Linked DNA regions of Homo sapiens: region 2 is linked to region 1. The links come from fine-mapping of genetic effects on gene expression. Tissue or cell type: whole blood. Region 1 holds a variant in brackets; the other region holds the start of a gene. All regions are shown on one strand. Distances are from middle to middle.

Region 1 (8,326 bases):
AACATCACCAGTTAGAAGGAGTTGTGATGCCTGGTCAGCAATTTAAATTCAAAAAGCCTATTAGAATTGTGGATGGATGGCTGTTAGGCTAACAGTGTTATTATGTGAATAGTATGTGTGTTGTAAATTCTAAGGCCCGTGGTTTTCATTCCTATTTTCTCCTTGATTGTGACATAAGCACATTTGGAGTTTTCAAACTAGCTGGATTTATTGCCCAGCTGACTACGGCTTTCCTTGATGTCAGAATGAGGCCACCTTTGGCCCACTTTGAACCAGCTGAGAGAGTCCTGTGGGGTTTACACAGAGCCCACCCCTCCCTCCAGTGTCCACATCATCCTCATGACCGTGATGCACTCCTGGTGGCCTCCTGAGGCCATGGGTAGTCAATACCTATGTCTCATAGTGGACCTGCCATTTCATTCCAAGCTCTTGGTGAAATGTTTGTAGGGAAAACAATGCGTTCTTGTGGGCTCTCCTTGACACTAATAACCATGGATGAAGAGAACCTCTAGAGCACATAATGACTGAAACCCATGCTCAATGAAGAGAACTGCTTGGGATGGCTTTCAGCTCATCTTGTGTCTGCCAGGACCTTCCCAAACACTGCCTCCAGCCCACCACCAAACAGGCTGTGTGTTAAATCACACCTTTTCCTGTTAAAATCAACCAATGACATTGAGGCTGGGTACAGTGGCTCATGCCTGTATTCCCAGCCCTTTGGAAGGCTGAGGTGGGTGGATCACTTGAGTCCAGGAGTTGGAGACCAGCTTGGCCAACATGGCGAAACCCCATCTCTACAAAATACAAAAAAAATTAGTGGGGTGTGGTGGTGTATGCCTGTAGTAGTCCTAGCTACTCAGGAGGCTGAAGTGGGAGGATCACTTGAGCCCAGGGAGGTTGAGGCTGCAGTGAGCTGTGATTGAGCTCCCACTGGCGGTTCCAACCGGTGCCTGTGGCTTTCCATCCCAAAGCAAAAGCCCCACCCATTTCTGCTATGGGGTTGACACCTTGCCCGTAGCTCCCTGATCTTTGGGGATTTTGGAAATCCCCAGCACTGCCTTTCCTGTGCTTTTAAATGTATGCAAATGCAATAGCAAATGGCCCTCACCCCAGGAGGACAGCTATTCATGGGGCCCCTCCCTGCCCACACCGGGTGGCTCCATGGGGTCTTGTTAAACCTTCTCAGAGGTTGGCAGAAGACTCCTTTTAGCCTTGTCCCTTTCTTCTTGCCTCTGGGTCTCTCTTCCTGGGGACTTTCTTCACCCTGCCTTCGTCTTTCTTCTGCCACTTTGCTGCTTTGCCCTGACCGCTCTGTCCTCCTTTTTCCAGTCCCTGTGCGTCTCTCCTCTTCCTGCTGGCTTTCCTCTCCCTGCCCCTCTTCCCCCTCTCTTTCTGTCTACGTTGAGGAGGTGTCATCCTCTGTTCTCTCTGCTCTTTCTTGGCTGTGCTGCTTCTTCCTCCCTCCTAAGATCACCTATCCCGCCGAGCCCCTGCCCTGCTGGGGCCTGAAGTGAAGAGGGCTCTTCCCTCAAATTCCCTAGAGCTGAGGGGCAGGGCCAGCATCTCAGGCTGGCGACCAGTGCAGCCACACAGGGCTCAGAAGGCCTGTGCTTTGTTTAACACTTGGCAGTTGCTGTCCTGAATTCTCAGTAATTTTTGAATAAGGGGCTGCATTTTCATTTTGCAGTGACTCCATGAAGTATGCACTGTTTCTGCTGAGGATTATGAACTTCCTGGGGGGAACACATCCCCTCCTCTTAGAGCTGTAAGAGCTGGGCTGAGGCGCAGGGTCCAAGTGCTGGTCCTGCGTCTGCTCCTCACTCACCCAACAGTAAGCAGCAAGATTCATCTTCATTTTACCAATGAGATAAATCAAGGCTCAGAGAGGCCATGTCACTTGCCCAGGGACCCACAGCTCATGAGCCCGGATTGAAGGAAGCTGACTCTGAAATTTGGACATTCTGTGGTCCTTTCCTGGCTGAAACCATAGGGGCTTTGGTAAGCCACCCTTTTATCAGTGAACTAAGGCTCAGTCTTTGCATCTGGAAAATAGAGGTAGTGAAAGTAGCCATCTGTGCAGAACCAGCTGGTGTTTAAATCCTGGAAAGTTCCTGGCACATGGCTACCTCCTGAAACAGCAGCCACAGCCTTTCTGAGCCTCCATTTTCTCATCTGTCAAATGGGGATCATGGTGGTACCTGCCTCACAGGACCCTTATGGGAATTTAATGACACAGGACGTGTGCTTAGCTTAGGGCCTGGCACAAGTAGGTGGGCAAGGCTAGTACACAGGAGCTTCTAGGCCAGAGGAGGGAGTAATCTATGAGTAGGGAAACTGTAGGATTTATTGTCCTGACTGGGGCACTTTGAGAATGAAAGGAACATGACAAGAAGCATAAACAGGGATTGTTGTGGGCAAGCCAGGATGGAGGGTCACTCTACCTGTGTATCAAGTATGTCTTTGTCATGATTGTCTGTTTCATAAAATATGTTCACAGATAGGTGAGTATAAGGATGCCCCAGGCCCACCCCCAGCTGGTGTGGAGAAAGACTGTGTTTGGGCTGGGTGCAGTGGCTCACACCTGTAATCCCAGCACTTTGGGAGGCCGAGGCAGGTGGATCACCTGAGACCAGCCTGACCAACATGGAGAAACCCCATCACTGCTAAAAATACAAAATCAGCCAGGTGTGGTGGCGCATGCCTGTAATCTCAGCTACTTGGGAGGCTGAAGCAGGAGAATCGATTGAACCTGGGAGGTGGATATTGCGGTGAGCTGAGATTGCGCCATTGCACTCCAGCCTGGGCAACAAGAGCAAAACTCCGTCTCAAAAAAAAAAAAAAAAAAAACAAGGCTGTGTTCGAGCCTGGGCCATAGAGAATGATGTCCCTCGGGCTGGGCATGATGGAACATGATGGTAAGCCCAGCACTTTGGGAAGCAAAGTGGGAGGATAGCTTGAGGCCAGAAATTCAAGACCAGCTTGGGCAATATAGCAAGACCTCATCTCCAAAAATTAAAATAATAAAATTTTAAAAAGGGAGGGGGAAAAAAGAAAGAGTAGTGTCCCACTTATCACTGCTACTGCTACCAAAGCTTCAGTTCTGAAAAAACATCAGGGAGAATGACTTAAAGGCCACGGTTCAGGCCCCTTCTCAGATATTCTAGAAAATTCTTTGGATTACACCAGCAGTGCATACACCTGGATGTGTAGACTGAAACTCACAGTCATATCTAGGAAAAGCAGCTTTTACTGAATTGCAGTTTGGGGCAGTGCTGTCCATCAGTGAGTGTTTGGAGCCTCCCTTAAAACATTCAGGAACTGGAGACCCCGTTCCGTGATCAGATCCCCCATGTCTTCTCTCCACAGGCTTCTGGAGACAGTCCTTCTGCTCCTAGCATCAGGAAGCCTTACTATTCCCCTGAGTGGGTTTGGTTTTTAGCAAGGAGCATGTGACTCATGTAACTGGGTCCCCCTTTCAGGAAGCTGGGGTTCCAGTGTATGGTCCAGCCACTGTCAGTGTCTAGGAACTTCTGTGTCCCCTGCATTTCACCCTTAGCCGTGACTCCATTTTCTGTCTCTACACATGTTTCCCTTCCTTCTTTTACTTTAATTTATGTTCCCTGTATAAGTGAGCCTCTTTTGAACCTCCCACCATCCACAGCTGCATCACGCCAATAATTAAGTGAACAAAAATAAAAAATCGACAAACCTGCAAGCAAAACCATATTGTGGCACCCCTCCCCAACCCAGGAGAGCAGCTCAGTTGGCCTGGTGGGGGTCGGCTGGCAAAGGGTTAAGAATGATGCAGAGGAAGTGCTGGCGGAGATTAAAGGGAGGAAGTGGCTGCTGCCTGGGGAGGGAGGTGGCTGGCTTGTCCTGTGTGACTCCAGGGGCCTAAACCAACACTGACACGAATGTGGCAGTTTGCTCAAGGTCAGTGTAGTGAAAAAAAGGAAGAGCTTTCCAATGACTTGA[C/T]AAGTCTTTCTAGAAGTTCTACTGGTGGGGGTTTCAAACTCACTGATAGCTGACTCCAGACATAGCTCTCTTTAAACATAACAGCCAAAGGGCATGTTTGTTTGAGCCAGTCTCTTCATGTTCATAGAGTGACCAGCGGGCCCTGATTGGCTGGGACATTCCAGTTTGAGCACTTTACATTCTGCATCCCAGGACACCCCTTGGTTTCTGGCAAACCAGGACAACTGGTCACCCTATGCACCCTACGTATATGATCTCATGAAATCTTTACATTGACCCCCTTTACAGACGAGGAGTCTGTGATTTAGTAATCCAAGATTACATAGCATGGGAAGGGCCAAGCTGGGATTCACATGTGGATTTGCTGTAACTGAGTGAGGCTTAAGCTGTCAGCTGCACTGAGCCACTTCCCTTTTCCTGTAAGATGAGGGTGTGAGACCCCTTGATCCTAAAGCCTCTCTAGCAATGACTTTTAGGATTCTAGAATTTCCTCTGGTCTTCGAGCAGCTTTTTGTTTTCCATGGAAGGTGGGGTGGGGTAGGGTGGGGGGCAATTTTTCCAGCAAGACCCCTCCTAGGTCAAGGCTTGGGCTTTGCCTTGGGAGAGGTGACAGCCTGGTGACAGGGTCAAAAGGAAGGGCAGCCTGCCCCTCCTTCCCTGTGCCTGGGAACAGGGTGGGATCTCATACTCCACCGTCCTGATTGCTGGCAGTGGTGCCAGTCCATTTGTCAGCTGCTTGGGCTGGAGCCAGGGAATTCCAAGGGGCCAGAGCCTGCCTGAGCACTCCAAGGCCTCTGTGCTCGTGGCTGGCAGCCTAGGCAGGAGGACCCTGGGGCAGCTCAGGGCTCTGGGATTTTTCAAAGCTCCATGTGGCTGGACAGGCCTCTACAGACTCCCTGCCCTGGGAGTCTGGCCAGCCTGTGGAGACTGTGCAGAGGGGGGTGATTTGGAGTCTCTAAGTACCCCAAGTCAGTGAGGTAGCATTGTGAATGTGCAAGGTGCGGAAGTTGCACAGGTGGGGACAACTGATATGAGATCACAGGGCCCCGTGTGCAGCAGGCAAGCCACAGAACATAAAGGACAGTGACCGTCACTGAAGACCTGGACTCCAGAGTCAGGCAGTGCAGATTCAGATCTCTCCTCTGCCCCTTCCTACTGTGAGATCTTGGGCCAGTGCCCTTGCTTCTCTATGGCTTGATTTCCACATCTGAAAAATGGGAATGAAAATATCTACCTCGAAGGTTTGTTGTGAGTGGAGGCACTGAGTATGCCGTCTGTGCCTAATAAGCAGGGGGTGGATTCCATGAGCCCCAGACTCTCAGTTTTGGTTCCTCTCACCCCATAGCTGCACCCCAGGACCCTGTGACAGGCAGTGGGTGAGGGCTCTTCCCCATGGAGAAGCCGTGCTGGTAGGCTGTAAGGGAAGTCCTAGGGAGAGGAAGGAATGCTGCCTGGACACGTTTCACAGTCTTGTGATGAAAGGGGCCTGTCAGCCCATCCACGATGCTTGGAAATGCTGTGATAAGGGCATAGATGCTTTGAGTTCTCACAGATCTGAGTTCAAGTCCTGGTTCCACTGGGCACTGGCTGGCGATCCTGATCTGGTTCCTTTTACAGCCTCAGTTTCAACATCTGTGAAATGGAGGTAATGTCCTCAGGCCAGGGGGAAGATGGATTGTCAGGACACAAGGAGATGAGGGGGTGTCAAGCTCACAGCTAGGTGCCTGGCACGTAACAGGATGGGTCTCTTTCCTCTTGTCACCTTGCTGTTTGCTCTGCCTGGATTTGTGCACATGAGGCTGGGAGAAGCAAGGGGATGCTTGTGGAAAGCACACCCCAGGCAGAGGGACCTGCAAGAGCAGAGGCCCAGGTGCTTTGAACCATGCTCGGGGTACTGGGCTCCTTAAGCACAGGGAGCAGGTTGGTTTGGAAGGACTTGGCCTCTGAGGTCCCCCCAGCAGTCCTTCCGTGCCCCCAGCCTGGGGCTTCCCATGAGTCCTGCAGCCCTGTCCTGGGTCAGGGGTCGCTGACTTCACTTGGGTTGTCCAAGGGGAAGGGAGGCTAATGCCCATGCTCAGTGGCCCACCCTTCCTCCTGTTGCCTCTTGCCTCCACCAGCTCTCCCCCTCTATGCTGCCTTTTCCCCTTAGCGTCCTTTCCCTGGCACTTTTTTTCTTTTTAGGAGGCAAAGTCTTGCTCTGTCACCCAGGCTGGAGCGCAGTGGTGCAATCATAGCTCACTGCAGCCTCGACTTCCTGGGCTCAAGCGAGCCTCCCACCTTAGCCTCCTGAGTAGCTGGGACTAAAAGGTGTGTGTCACCACACTTGGCTAAATTTTTAAATTAAAATTTTTTCCCCTAGAGGCAGGGTCTCTCTATGATGCCCAAGCTGGTGTTGTACTCCTGGCTATAAGTGACCCTCCCGCCTCAGCCTCCCAAAGTGCTGGGATTACAGGCATGAGCCACTGTGCCCAGTCTCCCTAGCACTTTTAAGTGTTAATATCTCACACGCACACATACACACATTCATGTCAACCACTAACTGGATCTGACATAGTAGGAATGGTTTTGGCATCTGAGCCCCAGTCCTGACGCCATTTTGCTGTATAACTGTGGCCAAAAACCTCCTTTGTGTGTGGGCCTCTGCTTCTCCATCGTCATCACGACATTGACTTCAGTTCACTGGGGAAAAGTTGAAAGCAGGACCCTGATGGTGGAATTGAAGGCATAGCAGCAGTGTGTATCTGGCATCAATTTGCAGTGGGGGATGCCTTTCCAGAACCCCAGCACCAGACCCCAGAGACTGCTGACTGCTCCTTCATCTGCACCCTGCTCATCTCCTGGGCGGGGGGTGGGGGGGCGGTCTTCGAACTTACCTGCCTCACACACGTGTCCTGGGATGTGCCTCCCTGGTGAGCTGCAGGTTCTGGCTGCCCCTCAGCACTGCCTCCCTCCTGTCTCTGCCTACCCGCCTTGCTGAAAGGCCCTGGGTCCATGAGGCCCGGGGATGGGGGACTCGGTGTTACCATGGCAACCATAGCTTATCTGTGGCATCATGGACTCCGGGGGAAGATGGCTCCCAGCCCCCAGGACTGGACAGTATGGGCCCTTCTCTGTGACCTGGCTTTTCCCGTGAAGACCCATCTGAGTATCTCTGGTCCTCACTCCTCCGCTCACTCAAGACCTTTCTTGGAGCATTGGTGGTTGCCATGGAAATGGCTCTGGAAGCAAACCAGTCCCTGTGGGCTGAGGAAAAATCCTTAAGAAAAATAAAGAGATTGCTTGGCTTCCTGGCTCTCTGATGGGACATCCTGATGCCTGGAGCCTCCAAAAACTGCACTTTCTGGGTAGGCCTGGAACTGGCAGAAGGATCCTCAGTTCACCAGGCCTCTTGCTATTCTCCTGCCTCCAGCCTTTCCTCTTCCAACGCAGTGCCCACATCAGCCACCCAGGTTAGAAGCTGGAATCTTTTTAGAAGGATGATACCCTCTGCTTAAAACCATCCATGGCTCCCTATTGCCCATAGGATAAAGTTGATGGCTTGCAGGGATCTCACAATCTGAAACCCTCTTCTTTCCTTAGCCACATCTCCTGCCTTCTCCCCTCCCCTAACACACACACACACACACACACACACACACACACAGCCCCTAACCACACTTTTTCAAGCCTCTGTTCCTCTGCAGGTATGTCATTTCCCTCGGCTGCTCCACCTGGCAAAGGCTTCATACCCTCCAAGGCTCAGCTCAAATGCCACCTCCTCCAGGAAGCATCCCCTGATTTCCCCAGCCCTTTCTCTTTACTTTGTGCAGAGCCAGGGCCACACACTCAGTGACCAACAGGGCCAGGCAGGAGACCCAAATGACCCATTTATGAACATTTTTCATGTCCACAAAGACATACGTGCTCTCCTATGAAAGCTGAAAATGAGAATGACTTGGTTCCTCTTTCTCTCACTGGATTGCACTTATTTCTGCCACAGCAGAGACCCTGGACAAACTCAATGGCAAATTGCAACTGGCTTATTACCCCAGGGAACAATAGGGAGGGGTGGGGACTGTGGATAACCCCTGTTCTGTAATGCAAGCCCAGCATGGCCAGTTTGCTGGAAGCCTGGAATTTAGGTGACATCTCAGAATACTGACTGTGCCACGATCTGTTCCTGCAACCACTTTCTCTGCATGAAGGTAGTGACTGGGCCATCTTACTCCCACAGCATTTGGCAAGGAGTGTGACCCTTAGACGTTGCCCACTACTGGCTTTTTTTTTTTTTGGAGATGGAGGTCTCACCCTGTCACCCAGGTTGGAGTGTAGTGGTGCAATCATAGCTCACTGCAGCCCTAAGCTGCTGGGC
Region 2 (8,326 bases), 25 kb before region 1:
GGTGTACACAGAGGTTCCTCTGAGGGTCCTGGAGGAGACTGCTTCTCTCTCAAGTCCCAGTATCCCCAGGTCAGCCCTTAGATTTCAAAATCCTCTTTAAAACAAAAGCATAAAAACCCCCACAAGCAACAACAAACACTTTTTGCTCCAAGAAAGAAAAGCCAAACTGTTCAGCCCTGTTCAAAAGGGATGGCCAAAGGCCCGTGGCTTCAGATTGTCCCACAGCCACCAGGTGGAGAGTCATAAGCCAGGCAGCCCCACGCCTTCCTCACTGGCCCAGTGGGGCTGTGGGTTCCCACCTCCTCTGCCAGCCACCCAGGGACCCAGCTGGCTGGGGGACCAGTGTCCTTGCTCTGCCAGTTGTGGCTCCTAGCTGATGAGACCCGAGCTTAGGTTTGGCTGGGAGGCCAGAGGCAGAGGGAGGCATGCCACAGCCACAGCCACCTCCAGGGAGGAAGAGGCATGTCCAGGAGTCCATCCCCGGGCTGGATTTACCCAGCTCCTCTTCCATAGTACCCGTGTGCTTGATCTTCCTCGAAGGCTGCCTTCTGGCCTCCTTCTCTTCTCTCCCACTCTCCCTCCTCTCCCCCACTCCTTCTTCTCCTCCCCTCTCCTTTATCTCCCTTTCCTCCCCTTCTTCTCTTTCCCCCTTCCTCCTTCTGACCCCCTCCTCCCCTTTCTTCCTCTTCCCTCCTCCTCTCCTCTTCCCTCTTTTTCCTCTTTTCATCTCCCTCCTCCCTTTCCCTCCTCCTCCTTACCCCCTCCCCCTCTTCTCCTCCTCCCTCTCCCCTCTCCTCCCCTTGACCCCTCCTCTTCCCTCCTCCTCCTCTCTTCCTCCTTCCTCCTCCTCTTTTCATCTCCTTCCTCCCTTTCCCTCCTCCTCCTTACTCCCTCCTCCTCGTCTCCTCCTCCCCCACCCTCTCCTCCTCCCCTTTCTTTCTCTTCCCTCCTCCTCCGCTCCTCTTCCCTCCTCCTCTTTTCATATCCCTCCTCCCTTTCCCTCCTCCTCCTCCCCCTCCCCTCTCCTCTACTTGGCCCCTCCTTTTTCCTCCTCCTCCTCTCCTCTTTCCCTCCTCCTCCTCTCCTTTTTCCCTCCTCCTCTTTTCCTCTCCCTCCTCCCTTTCCCTCTTCCTCCTCTTCCTCTTCCACTGTCCACAGCAGATGAGGAAACTGAGACTCCAAAGGTGAAAGGCCTTGCCCAAGTCACACAGCTTACAGTGACAGCGACAGGAATTCAAACCAGGTCCGTCTGCTATCAAAGCCTCTGTTCTTAGCCACTATTCTGTGCATTGGCAAGGTGACTTGTTCCAGGGCCCATTTCAATGGATTCCTAATTGAAATGCCTATGTCAGTGGATCTCAAACTTGAGCAAGCATCAGAATCCCCTGGAGGGCTTCTTAAAACCCAGATGGCTTCCTGGAGTCTCTGATTGCCAAGGTCTGCAGTGAGGCCCAAGGGTTTGTGTTTCTAACAAACTTCTGGGTGAGGCTGCTGGGGTTGGTATGGAAACTAGACTTTAGGAACCTCTGGTCTCTATTAGATGGTGATATACAAGATCCCTGCCACGTTATGGAAATATCCTCTCCTTTCACCAGGAGAACCTGGGGAATGACATGATTTGGCTTTGTGTCCCGACCCAAATCTCATCTTGAATTGGAATTCCATAATCCTCACGAGTCATGGGAGGGACCAGGTGGGAGGTAATTGAACATGGGGGTGGTTTTCCCCCCATCCTGTTCTCATGATAGTGAGTGAGTTCTCATGAAATCTGATGGTTTTATAAGAGGCTTCCCCCTTTGCCTGGCACTCATTGTCTCTCCTGCCACCCTGTGAAGAGGTACCTTCCATCATGATTGTAAGTTTCCTGAGGCCTCCCCTGCTATGCGAAAATGTGAGTCAATTAAACCTTTTTTCTTTATAAATTACCCAGTCTTGGGTATTTCTTCACAGCAGTGTGAGAACGGACCAATACAATTACTAACTTCTGGGTGACCTTGGGTGAGTCCCTTGCCTCCTCTGGGTTCAGTGTTCTCATCTGTACAGTAAGTGTTTCGATATGATGTTTTGTTCCCTAGATAAGCCCAAAGAAGAAGAGAGCAAGGAAGACAGTTGGGTAGACTGGGCCTGACTTCTGACTATAGAGACCTGTGTGACCTCAGGCAAGAGACTCAATCTCTCTGGGCTTCAAGTTATCTGTGAAATGGAAGAATGAAATTAGATGGTTTCTAAGTGTAAAGCTCACTGAATTAAAGGATTGAGGATGGTGGGGAGAGGTCGGTGGGGTTCTAAGGCTGATCAGACGATGAGGACATAGTCCTCCACCTGCCCAAGACTTTGAGGCCCAAAACACAGGTTTCTCTCCTTCTCTCCCTCCCTCCCCATCTCCCTCTCCCTTCACCTTCCCCTCCTCCCCATTACCTTCCTCCCTGCCCTCCCTTTTCTTCCTTTCTTTCTTCTCCTCCCTTCCCCTCTCTTCCCCTCCCCTGCCCTTCCCTTTTCTTTTTCTTTCTAAAAATATTATTTTAGGCAGTCGTAGGCAGTCTTGGCTTTGGAATCAGACAGACTCAGATCCAGCCATGGCTCGGTCAGCATGAGCTTGGCGCCCTGGGCAAAACGACTTCTGCTCTGTGGCCCTAGCATCCTCATGTGTAGAATGGGCAAGTGATGCCCCCCCGACGTGGGTGGTGGTTCACACGGCTTACTCCATGGAAGCACTTGGCACAGGGGCCCACATGGGCACTTCTGTTATTTCTTCAGTCTGGAGGCCAAGGGTGGGCCTCCGAGCCAGACAACATAGTTGGAATCCCAGCTCTGTCAGCTGCTGGCGGTGTGGTCTTGAGCAAGTGACTTAATCTCTCTGTACCCCAGTTTCCTTATTGGTAAGACTGGAGTAGTAATAATTCCTGTTATCTAGGGTTGCCGTGAAGAGTAAGTACGCATCGCCTAGCACGCTGCCTGGCTGTCGGTTGTTTTGATTATTCCACTAATGATGGTGACCACACAGCCGATGAACCAGGCACTTAGCGCCTGGTTAGGGCAGGGAACAGAATACAGTTCTTTCCCTACAGAGTTCCTGGTGCAAGGAGTTCTCGGTGCAAGGAGAGAGACATCTTAACAGGCAAGGACAGCACTGCATCAGTGAGGTGATGGGGTGACCCTGAGGGGCACAGCAGCCCCCGAGGGTTGGGGAAGGCTTCCCTGGGAGGTGACCTTCAACCTGAGACCTGAAGAGGCAGTAGGAGACCATCGGGCCACGAATTAGGGCAGGAATAGCATCCAGGTGGGAGGAACAGCGTTGCAAAGGCCCAGGGTGAGAGGCAGCCAATCTCTCGGTCAGTGTGGAGCTTGAGCCCCTCACCGGGAGCAGAGGCGCTTGCACTTCCCCCAGCAGCCGGGTGCTCAGATGTGCTCCCTGTTTGCGCTCAGTGGGCACGGCTCCCCGGCTGCAAGAGGCTGCCAGAGGGGCGGGTCGTCCCCAGCGGGCCCCCGCCGCCACCCACAAGCCCAGTCCCCGGCTGGTAGGGGCACCCTCCCCTCGCAGCCCCCTCTCCACGCAGCTAGCCGCCCCCGCCCTAGGTCAGCCCAGTTTCCTGCCCCTCCCTCCTGCTCTCCTCCCTCCAGCTGTTTCTCTGGCTGAGTTCTGTCCCAGTCCCATTCAGGGAAGCAGCCCCGGCGGCCAGCAGGGAGCTCAGGACAGAGCAGGCTCCCTGGGAAGCCTCCGGGTGATAGGGGTGTTCCAGCTGCGGCGCTCTGGGGGTTCAGAGGGGGATCTTGAATGAACAAATGAATGAACTGCTTTCTGGGCAAACAGCCACAGCCAGAGGAGCCTGTGATTGGCAGAAAGAAGCCAGGGTGTGCAAGTCTCCCCAACAGCCTCGAGTGGCCTGCAGTCACAGGGAACCCTCAGGAAGACCTTCCGGGCAGAGACCAGAGGGAAGGTATCATCACACACTTGCCTTGGGTGTCTTCTGAGGGGGGCCAGGGAAGGGGAATGAATACTAACAGAGAGAAAAGTTTGTTTCTTTTTATAATTTCATATTTGTTAAAAGGAAGAGTTTTGTTATTATTTTCAGATGTCAAAAGTAATGCATGTTCATTGTTTAAAGAAATAGCAAGGATACACAACTAAATATATGAATGTGGATTTCCACATCTAGTTTGGTAACCTGCTTAACCACAGATTGTGAACTTTTTTCCATATCACCTATATTCTTCCAATATACATTTTTCATGGCTGCATAGAAAGGCTATCTTAAGATTATTTGACTTTTCCATAATAGATTTGCTTCTTTTTTTTTATTAGAACAGTGCTGCAATGAATATTTAGTATGACATCTTTGTGTGTGTGTCTTATGAATACCTTTTAGAAATTGCTAGATTTAAGGTTTGCCTATTTTTAAGACTTCTGAGCTTTTGGTCACACTGCACCCTGGAAGGCCGTGGCAGCTTGACCTCTCTACGATGTTATACCAGGGCACAGTATTCTCACATACTAAACCCACCTTGTTGCTACCCATCCCTTAAACTTTCCCTGATGTGAAGTCGAGAATAATATCTAGATGCTTCAATAGGCATTTCATTTCTTTGTTAGTGTTGATTCTCTTTTATAAACTTATTTTTCACATTTCTAGTCTGACTCTCCTGTTCAAGTCTGTTCCCATTTTTTTCTCCTCTGGGGGCATGTTTATCTTTTTCCAATTGATATCTAAGGGTTCTTTGTATATAAAGGACACAAAACCTTTGCCGGCACTCTCTGTTGAAAATATTCCACTCCCTCCTCTGTCTTCAGAATAGCCCATTTTAAATGGGCAAGCCAGCTTTGGCAAAATTATAAGCATTACAACATCAGGGAACTACTACTTGATATAAGCCCAATCACTCAGACCTGTGCGGTTCAGAGATGCCAGATCACTGGTCTGAGGTCACACGCCTGAACGTCCAGGTTCTGAGTCTTTCTTTTTCTATTAGGGAAAGCCCTCAACTTCCCTTTTGCATCCCCTACCTCCTTCTCAAGACCAATCTTCTCTGTGGTTCTTGCTGTATCTCCTGCCCCTTCCAAACTGGTTTGAAGGTAAGATTCCTCTAAATGCCTTGGCTGCTGAGGTGAGTGTGACTGGGTCATTCAGGCCTCTGGTGCAGGAGGAGGCAGCTTGGCCTTTTCTTTAACCTAAACCAGTGGCACTCAAATGATGATGTGTCATACACTTGGGAGGTCCACAGGAGAGTTATCTCTTGATGCACAGGGGCCTTCTTTGGACTCCCCCAAAACTTCAGGGAACAGATAACCTTAACTTTGGGCAAGTCATGCCTTTCTCTGGCTTGACTTGTTCTGAGAAGTCCCCTACCCGCACTGGGTCAGGGCTTGTCTGCTAGGCTCTCCCAGGGCCTATCCCTCCCTTATCACGGCTCCTACCACACCGTGTTCTAATGACCAGTCATCTTGTCTGTCTCTCCTTCTAGCCGGGAGGCCCCTAGAGGCCAGATCTGGGATATTACTTTTTTTCTGCATCCTCAGTCCCCTGCACAAGAACTAGCATATATTAGGGTCATTGTTCATGGAATAAATAAAGTAACCAGGTGTCAGTTTCACCATCTGTAAAATGGGGTGGGGGAAGTTGGACTGAAGTCCCATCTCTTAGATGTTTACCTAATAACTCCTCTCAGTTTGCAAACCACTTTCTCGAGATGATTTTATCAAATCCTCACCATGGCCACATGATGAAGGTACTATTAACATGCCCATTTTACAGATTAGGAAACAGAAGCCTGGAGAGTTCTGATGCTAGACCTCCCCACAAAAGGGAGTAGAACATTGTGCAAGAAGGGGCACCTTGGTCTTAGGCAAGGTACTCCCACTCTCTGGCCACAATAATATCATCTGTAAATAAGGATGATATTATTTGATATTATTATCACTCTGGGGGTGGGCTTGAATTGGCCTGCCACCTGCCAACTGAGTGACATGGAATCAGTTATTCCTCATCTTTGTGCCTGAGTTTCCTCATCTATAAAATGGGAATATGATCAGTAACTGCCTCATAAGATTATTCTAAAGAGTAAATGAGATCATACAAGTAAAGCTGTAAGCAGAGGATTTGTTGTAAAATAAGGTCTCTATAAACATTAGCTATTGTTCTGATGATCATTTCTATTCCACTGTGCCTGTCTATACCTGTGACACTCATCTGAGCCAAATGGAAATTATTATTGATTTCTTTAGTGGATTATTAATGCTCTTATTCCCACTGATGTACAAGAAAACCAAAAGCTTATTTCATTCTCTTTGAGCTACACCACATGGGTGCAGACATTACCGCCAGTTGCGAGGCTATGAAGTAGACTCAGAGCTTCTCAAAGTGCAATCTCTAGACCACCTGCATTAGAATAATTGTGAGTGTTTCTTTTTTTTTTTTTTCCTGGAGATGGAGTCTCGCTCTGTCGCCCAGGCTGGAGTACAGTGGCGCAATCTTGGCTCACTGCAAGCTCTGCCTCCCGGGTTCACGCCATTCTCCTGCCTCAGCCTCCCAAGTAGCTGCGACTACAGGCACCCACCACCCCGCCCGGCTAATTTTTTGTATTTTTAGTAGAGACGGGGTTTCACCGTATTAGCCAGGATGGTCTCAATCTCCTGACCTTGTGATCCACCCACCTCGGCCTCCAAAAGTGCTGGGATTACAGGCGTGAGCCACTGCGCCCGGCCAATTGTGAGTGTTTCTTAAAGCTTCAGTTTGGAAATCAGAATCTCTGTGGATGAGGCTTCAGTGTCTGCATGTTGAACCAGCACCCCAGGTCATTCAGATGCACCCCAAAACTTGAGAACTACCAACCTAGAGTGCTTAAAAGTCTTTCCTTTTTGCCCTTTGTTCACACTGGGGTCTTGGGTTCTTTGCTGCACAATAAGGTTTCTTTTTTCCCTTCTAAGCAAATATTCATGTACTTCTGTGAATCCACATGTTCCGTGTCAGCAGTTGAGGCCAGAAGGTTTGGCAGAGAAGAAGCGAAACTTTGTCTTATAGTACCACAGAAAGTCAGATCGTGTTAGCAATCCCCCAGCATGGAGGCTTTGAAATTATTTTCAGTTGCAGAATCCTTTCCACAAATGAAAGTCTTATGGGGAAGTGTAATTTGAAAACAGATAAAGGTGGTGTTATTCTTGTTGAAACAGAGGTGGAAGACTCCAGGCTGCCACTAAATCTCACTCTTGTTGCTGAAGGGCCTCTAAGAATCTTTGTAGCTCCATGGGGCAGGCAGGAAACTGCAACTCCTCTACTCCAAGGAGTTAAGAGACCAAAGTTCTAGACATTTGTTGAGCTTACTGTGTGACCTTGGCAAGGCACTCTTACTCTTTGGCCACAATAATTTCATCTGTAAATAAGGAGGTCGAATGGTATATCAGCTAGGGTAGTAGCTGCAGTAACAAATAGGTCCCCAAAGGCATAAGGGCTGAAGCAAAGCAGAGCTTTATTATAAGGCAAGTATTTCTGAATGGAGGGTGGTCCTCTTCCTCATGGTACTTCAGTGACTCATCTGGTGGTCCCACTCTCTCCTCAGATATCCTCATTGTCTGCAGCCAGGTGCACAAGACAAAAGAAAGTATGGAGGTGGCATATTTGCTTATCTGCTTTGGCCTGGAAGCAGCAGACATGACTTCCACTCACATGAGAACTATCATGTGGCCAATCTAGTTGCAAAGGAGGCCAGGACATGGAGTTACAAGGATATGAGGTTCTTGGCAAAGAGCAGCTCTTTCCCAGCCACAGTCGTGTATTGTGGACAGGGAGAATGAATTTTTGTGGACAGCTACCTGTCTCTGTCACAAATGTGGTGACCTCTTGGGTTGCTTCCATTCTTTGATTCTAAGTCTACATTTCCATTAGTCAATCTTAGTTAACATGGTGATGTTGGACTCACAACATCACCTATCCTCAAGGTAATTCCCATCAAATATACTAAGTAAATTTCCAGACTCCAGGCCCCTAAACATGGATTTTTCTGAAACATAGGCAACTGCCATTCTCTTTTCCCCCTGGAAAAAGGAAATAAGAATAATGGTTTGATAGAACATGCTGCGGGTTATTAAGCCAAAGGTATTTATATCCATTATCTACTTGAATCTCCCTACAAGCCTACATGGAAAGGCCTCAGGACTATCATCCCCATTTTATAGGTGAATAAAATGAGGCTCAGAGAGCTAAAGGGACTTGCCTAAGGTCACACAGCTCATAGCAAAAGAATGGGATTTGAACGAAAAACATCTTATTCCTGTCCTAGGGCCCCACTGCACATTTGAATGTTGGTGTTCATGTACGTGTACATGGTGTGGTTA

Evidence for each region.
Region 2: it holds the start of CMKLR1, and the variant in region 1 is fine-mapped to the expression of CMKLR1 in whole blood (TOPMed, PIP above 0.99). The same link has a PIP of 0.9 or more in monocytes.

Annotation. Positions count from the first base shown.
Region 1 is chr12:108,309,456-108,317,781 of GRCh38, reverse strand. The region is part of intron 2 of CMKLR1 (chemerin chemokine-like receptor 1); the gene reads left to right. Among named protein-coding and RNA genes, the nearest start is that of CMKLR1, 26 kb to the left of the region's middle. RefSeq lists an enhancer at 722-1,240 and silencers at 956-1,250, 1,356-1,650. The variant C/T (reference allele first, on the strand shown) is at 3,976.
Region 2 is chr12:108,334,639-108,342,964 of GRCh38, reverse strand. It overlaps CMKLR1 (chemerin chemokine-like receptor 1), which reads left to right and starts at 3,654. Exons shown (of 4, transcript NM_001142343.2): 1 at 3,654-3,938. RefSeq lists a silencer at 3,371-3,490 and an enhancer at 3,598-4,221.